2 separate regions of the Homo sapiens genome follow, and region 2 is linked to region 1. The links come from fine-mapping of genetic effects on gene expression. Tissue or cell type: whole blood. Region 1 holds a variant in brackets; the other region holds the start of a gene. All regions are shown on one strand. Distances are between the middles of the regions.

Evidence for each region. PIP is the estimated chance that this variant, and not a neighbour inherited with it, causes the effect. A credible set is the group of variants that fine-mapping cannot tell apart.
Region 2: KIAA0408 starts here. The variant in region 1 is the best candidate, but not a certain one, in a credible set for the expression of KIAA0408 in whole blood (TOPMed, PIP 0.62).

Annotation. Positions count from the first base shown.
Region 1 is chr6:127,514,466-127,517,228 of GRCh38, forward strand. MTCL3 (MTCL family member 3) reads right to left here. Exons shown (of 7, transcript NM_001400265.1): 2 at 1,049-2,237; 3 at 358-582. The coding sequence starts at 2,149. It overlaps SOGA3-KIAA0408 (SOGA3-KIAA0408 readthrough), which reads right to left. Exons shown (of 13, transcript NR_174482.1): 2 at 1,049-2,237; 3 at 358-582. LOC107986642 (a long non-coding RNA gene) reads left to right here. Exons shown (of 2, transcript XR_001744337.2): 2 at 1-835. Among named protein-coding and RNA genes, the nearest start is that of MTCL3, 3.5 kb to the right of the region's middle. RefSeq lists an enhancer at 342-866 and a silencer at 1,554-1,783. The variant A/G (reference allele first, on the strand shown) is at 1,747.
Region 2 is chr6:127,458,052-127,460,814 of GRCh38, forward strand. It overlaps KIAA0408, which reads right to left and starts at 1,338. Exons shown (of 6, transcript NM_014702.5): 1 at 1,124-1,338. All of the region lies in intron 7 of SOGA3-KIAA0408 (SOGA3-KIAA0408 readthrough), which reads right to left.

The DNA of each region.
Region 1 (2,763 bases):
TCTCTCAGTAGACAGACTGAAGGGCAGATCAAAGGCTAGAGCCTGCGCTCTGCCACGCCCTTGCTTCTGCCCAGAAGGGAGCCTTCTTCTCATCACCTCTTGAAGAGCCACCTTTGCTCCCAGGAGAGCACACTTAGCTCGTTTGCTGCCAGGCCCTCCACACACTCTGCACTCTTTAGAGCCACCTGCCAGTTCTCTCCCTTCTGAGACCCTAGTATTTTGTGGTTAGCGCTACGAAACTGTGTCCCTAAGGCTCCTTGCCAGTCGCCACTGAAGACTTCTCAGCCTAAAGAGCCCTTGGCCAAAGTCCCCACCCACCGCCCCTGCCGCGCGCCATTGAGCCCCCGCGCCGCAGACCTTGAGGTCCTGCTCCAGGCTGCGCAACAGCTCCCCGTCGATTTCCCCGGTCTGGGCGTAGCGGAGCCTTTTGCGCTCGGCTTTGCGGAGGCGGTACTGCAGGATCCGGCAGTTTTTGTTGGCTCTCTCCAACTCGTGGCGCATTTCCTGCAGTTGACAGGCATCCTCCTCGAAGAAAGTGTCCCTCATCTCGTCCATCTCGGTTCTCAGCTCATCGATCTCGTTCTGAGGCGGTGACAGGCCGCGTGTCAAAATCAAACTCGCTTCCAGCCCTTCCGACACACACCGTACACACCCCATTCCAATTCCAAATTCTCAGCTTTAATTGCCCTCTCTCTCCACGAGACAGGAGTGACAAGGAGCTGAGTACAGAAGAGGAAACTGGGGGAAAAAGGCCCACTTTAGGCCCTCTCTCGTTCTCTTACTCTACCTCTCTCCAGGAAGAAGTGTGACAAACCATTATAATTAGAGAAACGGAGGCCCAGATTTGAATTTAAATGAAAACCTCGCGTTACTGAGAGCAGATTCAAATTCCGGCAAGGCCTAGGAAACCCCCTCCCTCCTTTCTTGTTCTCCTCCCTCTTCAAGGCTCCCTAACAGGTTAGCAGCCTCTGATCCCTGCCGGTACACGCCCTAATCCTCCCAGGCCCACTCTTCCCATCCCCCAGCCGGGTCCCCCCACCCTCCTCACCTTGAGAGTCTCGTTTTCCTCTCGCAGCTTCTCCATCTCCTCTTGCATTTCTTCCTGCTCTTGGAGCTGCTGCGGGTGCGGCTGCGACGAAGGGGGCGCTGCCGCCTGCATGCCCCCGCCGCTCGCGCTGCCCTCTGCGCTCTGCTGGGGGCCCTCCGCCGCCGCCGCCATTGGGGAGGCGGAGGCGACGGCCAGGGTCTCGCAAACGGCAGGGGGGCCAGACACCGGGGAGCTGCGGCTACTGCTGCCGCCGCCGTTCTTAGCGTGCATCTGAGCCGCGGCCGCCGCCGCTGCCGCCCGCTCCTTCTTGAGATGGAACTGGATGAGCTCAGACTGCAGACATCCTTCTTTCCAGTAGCTCCCTCCACCACCGCTGCCGCCCCCCGCAACGCCGCTTCCGGAGTTTCTGCTGCCGGTTCCTGGGGTTTTGCCCGCAGAAGAGGAGGATGGAGAAGGGGAGGCCCCCTCCCCGCCGCTGCCGCCCCTCTGCTGAGCGCGTACGCCTTTCCCTCGCCAGCCCCTGGGCGGCGGCGGCTGCGGAGCGCCCCCCTCCCTTTCCCCGGAGCCGCCGCCGGCTCCTCCTCCTTCCCCGCCCCCTCCTCCCCCTTCTCCGAGCGGAGGGGGTTCCCCGAGTTTCGAGGGCACGGACTCTAGCTCCCGAGGCGGCTCCTCGGGCGGTCCGGGCCTCCTGCCGCCCA[A/G]AGCGGCCAGGGTCGCGGCGGGGGCCGCTTCAGCACCAGCCACAGGCTGGACAGCTCCCGGAGCGGCCCCTTTGGGCGCCAGGGGCGTCGCCTTCTCGGCCCCACCTCCGCCTCCTCGGATGCTGGCGGGCGGCCCCGTGCGGCTCCCGGTCTTGTTACCCTGCTGTTGCTGCTGCTGCAGCTGCTGCTGCCGAACAGAATTGAGTTTAGTGCCGGCCCCCACTGGGGACCGGGTGGCCGCGATTGTCTGTCGCAGCGAACTGTCCCTCGGTCTAGCGGGTGACTGAGCTCGCTGCTGCTTTCTGCTGCTGCCCTCCGGGTGCAGACGAGCCTCAGTGGCTGCAGCGGCGGGAGAAGCTGCTGCTGTGGCAGGGGCAGCGCCCCCGATTGGTGGCTGACTCATGGCTATGAACCTACCAGATGCGATTTGGAAGAGCCCATTACTAGATCATCCTCTTCCCTCTTCACCGCCGCCAACCTTCCTTCCTAAGCTGGGACAGAAACAAAAGGAGAGAAGAAGACAACATGTCTGAATTTTTGCAGAGCAAAGGGTGATATTGCTCCATTTGGATGGCGCTTAATAGAAGCTTTGACTTTAGGAATAGGATGCAGGGCTGTCTTTAGGAATAGGATGGAGGGCTGTCAATTCTCATTTTGCCCAGGGTGGCGCTGTCTCCATCTCACTCCACCTCAGCAAAATGACGGATCTGAAAGCAGCTGAACCTTACATTCTCATGGTAGCAGGCTTTGGAAAGGGTGAGATACAGAGTCAGACAGGAATTGATGGAAAGGGAGATATAAAAGAAAAGAGGATAAAGTGGAAAAGAAGCTTCAGAAAGAAAAGATATCCATATATTAGAGTTGTCAACTCTGCTTTTACAACTTTGGCTTTCCTTACCATCAAATCCATATGTAAAGCCTAGTTTACTGGAGAAAGTTTTCATTTAATTAGTATTCCCAAGTTCAATTAGAGGAAAAGGGTTATGATGTAGGGTTCCTAGAGAATATTTTCTACGG
Region 2 (2,763 bases), 56 kb before region 1:
AATAGAAATGCCACACACAGTAGGTACTGCTAATCTCACAATTCCTAGAAGACTCATTTGGCCTGAAGATGTTTTGCTTCTGCTTAACTTTGATGGATTAGGAATTCCCCAGCTTATAACCTATCAGAGTAATGTACCATTTACCTCCTAAATTCTCTATCCCTTTCTCCAGGCTATTATAATCACTTGAATTATTTCAATGAATTAATAAATCTCATTCCTCTCTATTGTTCACTTGCAATTGAATCTTTCCAAAGACCACCATGATTTGATTTTGTTAGAGTAAAAGGGAAATTTTTTTCATTGCTGTGTATTGCTGATTTAGCACATTCCTCATGCTCCAACAAGGTCAAAGAGACACTACCACATGCAATTCCGAATGAATCAACTTTACCGTTTCATTTAATTATCTTCTTCCTTGTTTTCTTTACAGTTATTTACTCAAATTAGAAAACATCCAAGCTGTATGCACACTGATTTTACTTATAAAATGCAAACTTTAAAAGCAAACATTTGGTTTGAGTAAACAAATGTCTAAAACTAACCATCGTGAACAAAAGACATAGTGGTAAGTTTCCCTCCTAAACGTAGATTATTCAATTATGAATGGCATAGACTTCAGCTCAAATTACAGAAACACTAACTCTACAGTGAGTCCACCACCACCTTAGATAAAACTAAAATTTATTTTTCACCGCAATTTTCAAATACCAAGTCTCCAGGATTGTGACCTTTAATTTGCAAATGTTAAAAGTCTTTATATGAATAAAAAAAATCACATTTGAATAAATATACTTAGTGAAAATCAATGATGGGCAAAGTGCTTTTCAAACAACTGAGAAGCAGTGTTGGAAAAACAGTCTCAAAGAGCGGATGGTACTGTCAGTCCACAGTTGGGAAATCCACCCTGAGCAGCTGAACAGCCTTTTTCCTAGGAGTCAGTACAATCTGTTATGCACCCCGCCCACTGTTTTTAAGCCCAGACACAGACAACAGCAGAGACAGATGTTGAAATTACACTCCACTTAAACAGTATCCATAGTTTAAAACATCTCAACAGCAGCCCCTTTGTATCCTGCCATAATTAGTCACTTGCTTGTAAACTTGCCGGAAAGAAACATACCTTTCACACTGGGGAGAAATCCTATGGATGCTCGACCACTGGTCAATTAGCAGTGGAAGAAAGTGGATGGCTAGCTGTCTTAAAGAGAAAAGTCTCAGCTCGGTGAATCTCGATTCTTTACAAGAAAAGGGGATGCAAAATAAGTCCAACCATTCCACAGAGCAGTACTGACAAGTCCCTTTGAAACCTTCACCACTTTTACAAGTCAAAAAGCTGCTCAGCTTAGTGTCACAGCAGCAGCTGAGACTACTGTGACGTCAGTTACTTGGAGGCGGCCTTCAAGCCACCTCTTCCAACCAGAGCTCTGTAACTTTAGAGCAGCTCATGCTCTGGGTAAACAACTCCAGGTCCAGGACATTTTTAGCTTTTATAATGGAGCCCAGTATTTTCAAACTTGCCAAAAGAGCTGGTTGTTAACATCATACAATGACAATGGCCAATTTTAGATTTATTTTATTAGGAAAGTAAACTCATTTTTTTATAGGCAAGAATTATCTCCCTCCTTCCATAATTCTTTCTCCTTCTCAGCTGGTGGCAGGATGTACTCTGCTGCACCTTTAGAAGTTTGCATCTGGATGTGGCAGAACAATATGTGTAGCATAATTATATATATTATGCACTCTCAAAAGATCTGTGAAAGTTATCAAACTTCTATCTTCAAATAAAATAGAAATGGAACATAAAGTCCAACCTCTTAGCTCTCTGTGATTCTGACAGTGTGTTGCTTTTATCTACAGTAGTAGCGATGTCTTTACGTTAGAGAAAATCAGAGCCCATGGGAAAGGATGAGATTTCTTATTGTGGGAGGACAAAACACACACACACACACACCCCAAAAATGAGATACCTATGGGCTTATTTTCCACTAAAGTGTGCTGCAGCCATAGGAAGAGAAAGCAGCCTAAGTGTATGGAAAAGCTCTCTAAATCATGATCAAATCAGCCTGTTCTGAAATGCTAGGAGATCTTGCCTCCCCAGCGACATTTTCAGGTTTATTGTGGCTTTGTACACACATGCATCTGATGATATTTGGTTTAATTTAGTCAAAAAAGTCTCTAGAGCAATTTTTTGCCTAACTTAGCAAATACACAAGTTTAAACAATAAGGTCTTATCTTCAAGTCTGAAGAGCTTCCCTGGTGTGGTCTTTAAAGTAATACATATTCACTCACATTATTTTCACCTGCTTCCAGATAAACATTTCATGAGGAGCTAAAGTTTAGTAATAGTAACCTGCTCACAGTAGGACTTTAATACATGTAGGACAATCAAATGAAACCATACTCTGTGTCTGGAAAGCCTGACATCATAATCTCAACAGCAATAACAACAATAACAGTGATAGTTATAGTAATAATAGTGATTATTCACTGAGGGGCAACCCTCTGCAAGGTTCTGTGCTAAGTACTTTGAACAGACCTTTATCTGAGTTCACCCTCAGAGCAATTCTGTCTCTAGATACTGATAATCTGATCTTACTGATAAAACCCAAGCAAGGCTCATTGTGGTAAAGCATCATGCAAAAGTTCATAGAAATGCACCCATGTGGAGGAAACGGGTTTGAACTGTTTTGTCTGATTGCAAACCATGGAATTTTGTCATAGAGATCTAAGTTTCAATTCTGCTGCCACCACTTATCTGT